2 separate regions of the Homo sapiens genome follow, and region 2 is linked to region 1. The links come from fine-mapping of genetic effects on gene expression. A gene starts in region 1. The other region holds a variant in brackets. All regions are shown on one strand. Distances are from middle to middle. Region 1 holds the start of ZNF274 (zinc finger protein 274). Region 2 overlaps ZNF274 (zinc finger protein 274).

What was found. PIP is the estimated chance that this variant, and not a neighbour inherited with it, causes the effect.
Region 2: its variant is the best candidate, but not a certain one, in a credible set for the expression of ZNF274 in thyroid (GTEx, PIP 0.72).

What each region holds. Positions count from the first base shown.
Region 1 is chr19:58,180,416-58,185,783 of GRCh38, reverse strand. ZNF274 (zinc finger protein 274) reads right to left here and starts at 2,723. Exons shown (of 8, transcript NM_133502.3): 1 at 2,342-2,723; 2 at 1,786-1,863; 3 at 1-72. The coding sequence starts at 1,818. RefSeq lists enhancers at 1,871-2,060, 1,687-2,398, 2,311-2,730, 2,399-3,112.
Region 2 is chr19:58,206,623-58,211,990 of GRCh38, reverse strand. ZNF274 (zinc finger protein 274) reads right to left here. Exons shown (of 8, transcript NM_133502.3): 5 at 4,789-5,271; 6 at 1,918-2,030; 7 at 305-431. Among named protein-coding and RNA genes, the nearest start is that of ZNF544, 20 kb to the left of the region's middle. The variant T/C (reference allele first, on the strand shown) is at 2,997.

The DNA.
Region 1 (5,368 bases):
CTGTTTGAGGTCCAGCAGTCCCCACTCTTCCGGGGTAAAACCCAGTGTTACATCTTCAAAGGTCACTGGTTCCTAAAAATCCAGATTCTTGTTCAGCCACAGGCCATCCGCATCCACGACAAAAGAAAGACAGGGGAGGCTGACCAGGCCAGTGAAAGCACAGAATGGTCTACAAGATGACCCAAGGGCATTTTGGGAGTCTCATCCTGAGTTCCTGTCTTTGTCTGAAACCCCAAGCAAACCCAAGCTTGACTCTATTCAGGTTACAATAAGGAGAGCAACACATGAGATCTCTGTAGCATATGAAAATCTGTCCATTTTATTTATTTATTTATTTATTTAATTTATTTATTTATTGTTTTGAGACAGAGTCTCACTCTGTCTCCTAGTGGAGTGCAGTGGCGCAATCTTGGCTCACTGCAGCCTCCACCTCCCAGGTTCAAGCGATTCTCCTGCCTCAGCCTCCTGAGTAGCTGGGATTACAGGCGCATACCACCATGCCCGGCTAATTTTTGTATTTTTAGTAGAGATGGGGTTTCACCATGTTGGTCAAGCTGGTCTCGAACTCCTGACCTTGTGATCTGCCTGCCTCGGCCTCCCAAAGTGCTGGGATTACACATGTGAGCCACCGCACCCGGCCCTATTTTTCTTTTCTTTTTTTTTTGAGACGGAGTCTCTCTCTGTCGCCCAGGCTGGAGTGCAGTGGCGCCATCTCGGCTCACTGCAAGCTCCGCCTCCCCGGTTCACGCCATTCTCCTGCCTCAGCCTCCCGAGTAGCTGGGACTACAGGCGCCCGCCACCACGCCCGGCTAATTTTTTGTATTTTTTTAAGTAGAGACGGGGTTTCACTATGTTAGCCAGGATGGTCTCAATCTCCTGACCTCGTGATCCACCTGCCTCGGCCTCCCAAAGTGCTGGGATTACAGACGTGAGCCACCGCGCCCGGCCCCCTATTTCTTATTCATTTGAAAATTCTGACTTTGGGAGTGGTGCGTATGCCTCCTAGGGAATTCTCTGAGCTGCACCATCACACCCAAGCCGTCAGCCCCTACCCAGGGCCCTGATGCTTCTTTCTATCTCCTTCACCTGTCAGGGATCCATCCTCACCTGTCTTTTCTACTTGTTATTGAACTCTGCTGCTGTCACCTCTTGCTTGATGCCAATTTATCTGCTGAAATCTAAACATAAGCCTGATCCCTGCATAGACCTTTGGGAGGCCGAGATGGTCGGATCACCTTAGGTCAAGAGTTCCAGACCAGCCTGGCCAACATGGTGAAACCCCGTCTCCACAAAAAACACACACAAAAAATAAAAATAAAAAAAAAATTAGCTGGGTATGGTGGCACACGCCTGTAGTCCCAGCTACTCGGGGAGGCTGAGGCAGGAGAATCACTTGAACCCAGGAGGCGGAGGTTGCAGTGAGCCAAGATCGCGCCACTGCACTCCAGCCTGGGCGACAGAGGGAGACTCCATCTCAAAAAACAAAAAACAAACAAACAAAAGACCTGTCAATTACTCTTCCCAATATAAAGGATACAAGCAAGAGCCTTAACCTGGCCTTCAGAAGCCCCTACAATCTGGTCTCTATTCTAACTACACCCTTGGAAAACCAAGCAACCTGCGGTTCCACCATCACGCAGGATCTCTCATGCCCAACCAATCTCTACCCCCTCCCCGAGGTGCTCTGGAGGATGGGGGTATCTCAGGGAAGGTGGTATCTCACCACCATCCGCATCCTCCCAGGTGCAGTAGCGGACTCAAAAGCTGAAGGAAGCCTCTACTCACACAGGACCAGGCCGTCGGAAGCCTGGAGGCCATAGTTTCCTCCTTCTCAATGTGTCTCTGGTGGAAGTGGGCAGAGTCCTGAGGAAACCGAAGTTGGGAGGGGAGGGAGAGGCTTAAGGTGTCCGCTGGGGAGCTACCGCAGCCTCCGCCCAGGAACGGCTCCCTCAGCGGGAAATGACAAGTCCACCCAAACTGGAAAACGCCCAGAGTGAGTCATAGGACTCCCACAGGACTGGATAGGACCAGTTTTCCCCTCCCCGAGAGGACACCGAGCCTCCTCTGTCCCGCGCATCGGAGGGGATCGCCTCCCTGGCCCAGACCCCACGCTTCCGGAGGCGATCTGTTCTCTCCACCGCGGCGCCCCGAAAGCACTGTCTCCCCTCGGGGTTCCGGGTCACCGACCCCATCCCACAGAGCGGCGGGAGGACTGCAGGCACGGCCGGCTCAGGGTACCCGAGCTCGGCGGAAAATGCAGAGGCCGCGCTCGCCCCCAACTAACGGTTCTGGACCCGCCCAGCGCAGCCCCCGACGGACGCAGGTTTCGCGCGGCACTCACCCGGCGCGCGCCGCACAATGGCGCCCGTCGGCCGGCGGCGAAGTGCGTCAGCCCGCCGTCCCGAACTACAACTCCCAGACGCCCCCGCGGCGCGCCAGCTTGCCTCACCCAGCGGCGGCCATCTTGACTGGCCGGTTAGGGGCGGCAGGCGAAGCCGGGGACAGCAGGAGGAGGATACTCGTCGATGTCCCTCGGCGGTCCAGCTAGGCAAGGGGAGGCCTCTGGTGAGGGACGCTAGGCCGCAGGGCCCCACACTAATGTGGGCGGCGACCCGAGCTGGGAGAGAGTCGTGCCCTGCCACGAAGGCGACCACTCTTGGGGCAGAGCAGAAGCTGGAGAAAGGAAAGGCGCTGGACAGGGGTCAGGCCGGAAGTGCTGGAATGGGTGATGCTTGGTTGGGTGGCGGTGGGGGCGGGATTAATTATGACGTCCCTTGGGAAGAGGAAGGGCGGGTAGGGCCGGAAGTGCAGGGGGCGGGCCTAACTGGCCGTCCATCTGGGTGGAGGGGCGGGGACAGGGAGGGCGGGGAGAATGTAGGAGGCGGGGCTAGAGTCCACGCAACTTTTGGGGAAGGAGGGGGACTGGAAGACGGAAGTCGCGGGGGGAGTGGGGAGAGGTACTGAAGTTCCACCAGTTTCAAAGTCGAGAAAGAAGGGGAGGACTGGGAGAGCCGGAAGTGTGCAGGAGTTGGGACTGACGGCACTTATGTTTCTGGGAGATGGGTCCTGCCTGAAAGTGAGGGTGGACAGGGCCAAGTGTCCACTCAAGGTCAGGGAGGGGAGGGAAACTCGGAGGACCGGAAGTGTGATGGGAACGTGGCCAAACGTCCACCCTAGTTCTGGGGATTAGAGGAAGGGAGTAGGAAGGTCAGGGGTGTGCAAGGGGAAGGAGGGAAGACTAGGTGGACCACAAGTGTGATGGGAATGAGGCCAAACGTCTACCCTAGTTCTGGAGAGATGATCAGGGCTAACTGTACCCCAGGCATTGGGGAGGAGGAGCAGGATCCTCTGCCTAGTGTCCCCCTGTGGTCCAGTTTGCTCCTGGAAGCTGAGGTGCTCATGTCTAGGGAGAGGAAACCTAAGTCTGTAGCTGTCCAGGACCTGGTGTGTGCCACCCATCCTTGGGCCCAGGGTGCTCTCATCTTCCTTGGGAGCTCAGGACAAGGAGGTATTCTCTTGGCTTCCTCAAGGACCGACATCTGGTGTTTTCTTATCTTCCTTAGGTCCCAGGTCCCAGTATGGTCTTGTCTTCTTGGGACCTGAGGGCCCTAATGATCTCTCTCAGTGCTCAGGACCCTGTGTCCTCTTTCTTGATATTTCCTGGCAGGTCTCAGCAGCCCTCTGCCTCCCTCTGGTGGTCGTGTACACTGCCTGCTAAACTTGTTCCACGGGTTGTTGGTTTTTTTGGTCACTGTGGAGGATCCAACCTCAGGCTACACATTGTTTAATTGTTGCTGTTAGTGTGTTGATTTTGGCATAGGAGTATTTACTCAGAGACTGTGCAGATATCTTATAGTCTAATAATATTTCATTGGATTTTTCGTGTCTATTATAGATACAACACCATCCCCAATTAATAAGTAATTTGATATCTTCTTTTTCCATATTTCAACTTTAAAAAATTAACATTGTATAGTCCTAGCTAGTATGACAGAGCTATGTTAAGTAGTCATGTTTACTAATAGTCTTGTTTTGTTCTGGATTTGAATAGGATACGTCTAGCCCTTCATAATCACAAGGAAGCAAACCCCCTTGGAAATTCTTTTTTTTCTTTCTTTTTTTTTTTCTTGAGACAGGGTCTTGCTCTGTCACCCCGACTGGAATGCATTGGTGCGATCACAGCTTACTGCAGCCTCCACCTCCTGGGCCCAAGTGATCCGCCCACCTTAGCCTCTCAAATAGCTGGGACAGGTGCACACCACCACACCTGGCTTTTTTTTTTTTGGAGACAGAGTCTTGCTCTGTCGCCCAGGCTGGAGTGAGGTGGCACAATCTCGGCTCACTGCAACCTCTGCTTCCTGGGTTCAAGCGATTTTCCTGCCTCAGCTGCCCAAGTAGCTTGGACTACAGGTGTGTGCCACCATGCCTGGCTAATTTTTGTATTTGTAGTAGAGACGGGGTTTCTCCATGTTAGCCAGCCTGGTCTCGAACTCCTGACCTCAGGCAGTCTGCCCACCTCAGCCTCCCAAAGTGCTGAGATTATAGGCATGAGCCACCCCGCCTGGCCTCTTTTGTACTTTTTTGTAGAGACAGAAACCTCACTATGTTGCCCAGGCAGGTGGAAATTCTTCTAATGATTTCTTTCTATTTATGTGGTATAGGATAAAACCTGATTTTTGATTAAAAGAATTTGTTTTTGAGACAGGGTCTTGTTCTGTTGCCCAGGCTGGAGAGCAGTGCTGCAGTCATGGCTTACTGCTGGCCCAACCTCCTGGGCTCAAGTGTTCCTCCCATCTCAGCTTTCCAAGTAGCTAGGACTGACTACTGGTGTGCATCACCACACCTGGCTAATTTTTAATAAATATTTGTGTAGAGATGAGGTCTCAGTGTGTTGTCAGGGCTGGTCTTGAACTCCTGGACTCAAGCAATCCTCCCGCCTTGGCCTCCCAAAGTGCTGGGATTGCAGGCGTGAGCCACCATGCCTGACCAAAGATGTTTTGTTTTTTTTTTTTTGTTTTGAGACAGAGTCTCGCTCTTTCGCTCAGGCTGGAGTGCAATGGCGTGATTTCGGCTCAACTGCAACCTCTGCCTCCCGGGTTCAAGTGATTCTCCCTGCCTCAGCCTCCTGAGTAGCCGGGCGTGCCACCATGCCCGGCTAATTTTTGTATTTTTAGTAGAGATGGGGATTTGCCATGTTGGCCAGGCTGGTCTCGAACTCCTGACCTCAGAGGATCCGCCCACCTCGGCCCCGCAAAGTGCTGGGATTACAGGCTTGAGCCACTGTGCCCAACCTAAAGATGGTTTTATATAAGCATATTATTGAAGATTGATTTATGAGAGCCATTTTAATTCAACTTTTAATAACTGC
Region 2 (5,368 bases), 26 kb before region 1:
ACTGACCTTGGTGAACAAGGGACAGGAAGGGCAGGGAGTGTCCTCCGAGCTCTTCGAGTTCCTGTTCTCTCATACTCCCTCAGGAGATAGATAGCAAATCACTCCTTCACCGGACCTAAGGCTGCTTCTGGCCACCCAGTGACCTCACCCCTCTAGGTCTACAGTTCCACTTACAGGCCCTGGATGCAGCAAGGGCCCCTTGAGGGAATGCCCAGTGTGGAGTCTAGAGAAGGTGAACACCCCTGACTTGGGGCTCCTGTGGCCTACCAGCCCTGAGGTGGGTGAAGAGGGGGCACAGCCTTACCCACAGAGACCAGGTGCCCAAAGGTCTCCAGCATCACATCGCGGTACTCGGTCCTCTGTGTCGGGCCCAGCAGCCCCCACTCCTCCCGGCTGAAGTCCACAGCCACATCCTGGAAGGTCACTGGCTCCTGTAACATCACATATGTGTCTATGCTCAGCAAGAGGGTCAGAGGGTTGTCAATGAGGGCAGAAGAAAGGCCAGCTGGGAGGTTCTGACAGAGCTCACGGTGCTAGGGACTCTCCTGCTTTGGGGATTTGCTCAGAGACACCAACCCAGGGCCCACAAGAGTTCTACTGGGTCCAAACCAGGGTCTGGGTCTCAGGCTGGGAGGCAGAGCCCTTGCTTCATAAAGAGCTCCAAGTGCAACAAGCAAACAACTCCATCCTAACCACGGCTCTATCCAGCTTGCCCATTGCTGAAATCTTCCCACTGCAGAGGGTTCTCCATCTATTAATACTGTCTTCCCACTTGGTGGAAATGACAACCAAGCCCCTGCCTTTGTCGACAGGGCTGACCTGGGGGAGGGCAGTCACCCTGGCACAGCCATGACTGGTCCTTTCTGGGGAACTGACCAGGACTTTGGGAAGAAGAGGTACCCCCAACGCTGCTTTGCCAGGATCTGAGGCATTTTGCTTACATGGGGCAGAATCTGCCTAAGAAGAAAGGGGAGTGGCCACGCGCAGTGGCTCACACCTATAATCCCAGCACATTGGGAGGCCAAGGCGGGTGGATCACCTGAGGTCAGGAGTTCGAGACCAGCCTGGCCAACATGGTGAAACCCCGTCTCTATTAAAAATACCAAAAATTAGCCGGGTGTAGTGGCAGCTGTCTGTAATCCCAGCTACTCAGGAGGCTGAGACAGGAGAATCACTTGAACCTGGGAGGCAGAGGTTGCAGTGAGCTGAGATCGCGCCATTGCACTCCAGCCTGGGCAACAAGAGTGAAACTCCATCTCAAAAAAAAAGAAGAAGAAAGGGGAGAAAGCAGAGCCATGAAACAGGTTGGCCAGAGATTCTTCCCATCACCTGGGAGCACCTGGATGCAGCCTTGCCTGAAGCCTACCAGAGAATACATGAGAGCCAATAAATTGACTTCTACGCTTGAGCCAGTATAAGCCATTTGCAGTGCAAACAGGTCTGACCAATGACACATACATACCACTACCCCAGTGGTCAGCGCATCAGGACCAATCTTTTTCACCCACACCCCAGCTCTGGGTTATTCTGAAGCAAATCCCAGATACCAAAGATAAATACCTAAGTATGCATTTCTGAAGGTTGAGGGCTCTCTTGTTCTGACCTGGATACAGATGTGCCTGCCTGTGGTAGTTCCACCTCTCAAGTCTCTGTAAACACTTAGTCCCTTCCCTCTTGCCTCCTGCTTTCTCAGCTCCCGGGTCACCATGCGTTGTCTCCAGTGATGCCACAGTGGCTGGAGGGCAGGGCTGCTCTTCATACTCAGATTGCTTCAGCACAGACCTAAGAGCTCAGAATCTCAGAATGTCCCAGCCTGTGGGAGGTCTTAGGAAAGCCCAGGGCAGAGTGGATGCCTCAGGGGTGGGCCTGCCTCACAGGAGATGCTGTGACCAAAACAGGGTGATACTCCCCGCTTACCTCAGGGAGCACTGTCACTGGGCAGATGGCTGCATCCTCCTGCTTCTCCTCCTGCTGGGCAGTGACCTCGAGGCAGCAGGTGGTGCCCTCGGCAGGTTGTCCTGCAGGAAGTACTGGGAGGAGACACCAGCCAGAGGAGGTCAGCAGGTGTGGGGACCCTTAGGCAGGGCAAGGGTGGCCTCTCTGCAACCCATGGGGCCACCGCACCCCTGCATCGTACTGTGGCTCCATGACAGCCTCTGCTCCTGTCCTCCCTTCCCACCAGCTCTGCTCCCCTCACAGCACGTGCCCGAGTGCCCACACCTGGATGGGCCCGGGATGGCTCACCCTCCAAGGGTCACAGGGCACCAGTGTCCTCACTGCTGAGACTCTGGTCCCACTCCTTCCCTTTCCGGGGGCTGCTGAGGGCCCCAGCCCCTCCTGTGAGGCAGCTGACTGACGCCCCCTCCTTAGAGTCAAAGCCCCTGTTTCCGGCCTCCAAGCCCTGCACCCTGCCTATTTGGGCACCTCTTCCTTCTTCCCTCTCTCCTCCCACCTCATGGAAGGTGAGACTTTCCCTGGACCCATGAAATGCAGCCATCTTGAGGTGAACGTCACCAAGTCTCCTCCACCTAAGAAAACAACAGCTCCACCTGGCCCAAGGGCCCCTGTAACCACGGCTCCTTCATTCTAACCTTCCTCACATGACCCCAAATGGTCCACAGGCTTCCACAATGCTAATCTACCCCCACCATCAAGGTGGGCCACAAGATGACTTAGGCTGGCACACTGGACCATCCCTTTCTCTTGGCCACAGTGATTAGATCTGGGATGAACACAGCCTATAGCCAGATGATTGGAGCCAACAAGGCCTTAGTTGGAACATTTGGGAAAGAGAAATCCCATGCAGGGAGACAGCCTGCCCATGATGAAGCCAGTGGAGGGCAGAAGAGGTAAGAATGAGGGACAGGACAAGTCTGGAGGACACTATTGGAGCTCCTGGGTCCAGCCCTGCCTGATGCTCGAGCACCCTGGAACTTTTCCAATAAATTCTCCTTCTCCCTTGAGCCATTCTGTGCAAGGCTTTGCAGCAGTCACAC[T/C]CAAGCGTCCCAACTAACACACTGATCACATAATGTGAGATTCTCAGGGTTCTCTGGAAAGCCTCTTCCCATTGTCTTCTGTGGCACTAATTTATTTTATTCACCCCTGAGGTTAAACACAGGGTGAATTCACTGACTTTCACCTCATTAACCCCACAACTGTCTCCTTGGCACCTAACTAACTAGTTTCCTATTGCTGTTATAGTGAATTGCCACAATGCCAGCGGCTCAGATTAATGCAAATGTATTACCTTATGGTTCTGGAGATGAGAAGTCTGGTTTGTGCCTCACTGGGCTAAAATGAAGGTGTCAGCATGGCTATGTTCCTTTTGGAGGCTCCAAGGGAGAATCCATTCCTTGCCTTTTCCAGCTTCTAGAGGCTGCCCCAAACATTTGGCTTATGGCTTCTTCCTCTATCAGCTGCTCCTATCATTACATCTCCTCTGACCCTCCAGCCTCCCTCTCCTAAGGGCCCCTGTGGTTATGTTAGATCCACTCAAATAATCCAGTGCATCTCTCCCTCTCAAGATCCTTAATTGTTTCTGCAAAGTCCCCTTTGTCATGTGAGGCAACTTATTCACAGGGTCCAGGAGTCAGGACATGGACACCTTTGGGGCAATTATTCTGCCAAGTACAGCACCCCAGACTTGGTGCATCTGACACAACTCATGCAAGTGCCTGCCCTGCTGCCTCGGATACCCGATCTCCAGGATGCCCTGGCCTCTTAGAATCCCACCATCCCCCTGCAGGATACCTTCCCCTTTCCTGCAATCACAAACATCAACCAGTCAATCATTCGTTCACATCAGAAACATCTTCTGGGCACCCGTGAAATGTGGAAAATGGAGGTGAGCAATGCAGAAGCATGCACGCTCTGTGAAACTCAGCCTGATGAAGAAACCAAGTCTTGCAGTCTTATTCCCAAATACACACTCCACACGTGTAGTCTCTCCCCAGTCAGACATCACCATCACTCCTATCCAAGACACCACCCCATCAGAGGGCATGGCAATAGCTGCGGGTAGCCTGTGTCCAGCCTCGCCCCCATCCTCTGTCCACCATCCACCACACATGCAGCCTGGTAAATCTCTAAAGGTCAAATCCAGTGGTGCCACCAGTTTCTGGAACTCAGGGATCGAGCCCTACTGTTTTAGAAGAACATTTTGCTTTGCTTTAGGACTAAAGTCCCCACTGGCAGTGCCAGCTCCAACCTCTGCTCCCTTCCATCACAAACATAACCGATTTTTCTGAGTTTTGCATTTACTGTGATCCCTTCCATCTTGGCCCTTACAGGCAGTGCTCCCCTCTGCATGGCACATCTTTCCTGCCCCCTTTCTTTACCCTGGCCAAGTTCCACTCCACACCAGGTGTCAGCTGCAGACCTTCATAAGCCTCACCATCACCTCGAGCTCCTCATAGTCCCAGCATTTTTCTATGCATTCTCATTTGTCAAATCCCTGTCTCTCCTGCTACTGCGGGCTCTCTGAGCTCAGTATTCCCATCTATCTTATCAAGTGCTACAGGGCTTATGGTGCAGCAGGGATGCCAGAGGGATAAAAATGAAGCACTTCATCTGTGTGCTTCCATCAGAAGCCCACGAAGGGCTAAAGAATGCAAGGGTTTCAGTGGCTCTGACTCAGGAACACGTGGGCAACATGGATGTCCTTGGTCTGTATGGAGCGGACACAATCCTTCCCATGACCTTCCTAGGAAGCCTGGAGTTCTTATCTCCCCCACAGGGTACTCCAAGACACCCTCATTAAGCTGTCCCTCTACCCACCCTTCTACTTACCTTCCTCCTCAGACATCCAGGTCACACCCTCTACCAGGGCCACCACCTCTTGGCAGTTCTCTGGGTGCTGCGATTCCACCCATGTCCGGAGCTTCACAGGCAGTGCACCTAGGAACTGCTCCAGCACCAGCAGCTCCAGGATCTGCTCCTTGGAGCGTGCCTTAGGCTGTAGCCACTGGTGACACAGCTCTCGGAGCTGGTCCAGGGCCTCCCGGGGACCTGTCATGTCCTTATAACGGAACTGCCGGAACCTCTGGCGCGCGGCCTCAGGGTCACCTGGATGCTTGCCCTGCTGTTGGACCTGCTCACTGGGGGCATCTGCACTCAGGCTTCCATCTTCAGCATATAGGGCCTGGATCTGGGCATTCCGGGGACCAGCCACCTCCTGGTTCAGTGTGAGGACCTCAACAACCTCAATGTTCATTAGGGGACTCTCAGCAGGAAGAGGATCCAATTTAGGGTCCAGCTGGAGCTCAGGATACTCTGTAAGTCAAAAGCAGAGCAAGACAAATGAGAACAAGCACATGAAAAGATGCTCAACGCCATTATTCACTAGGGAAATGCAAGTCAAAACCACAGT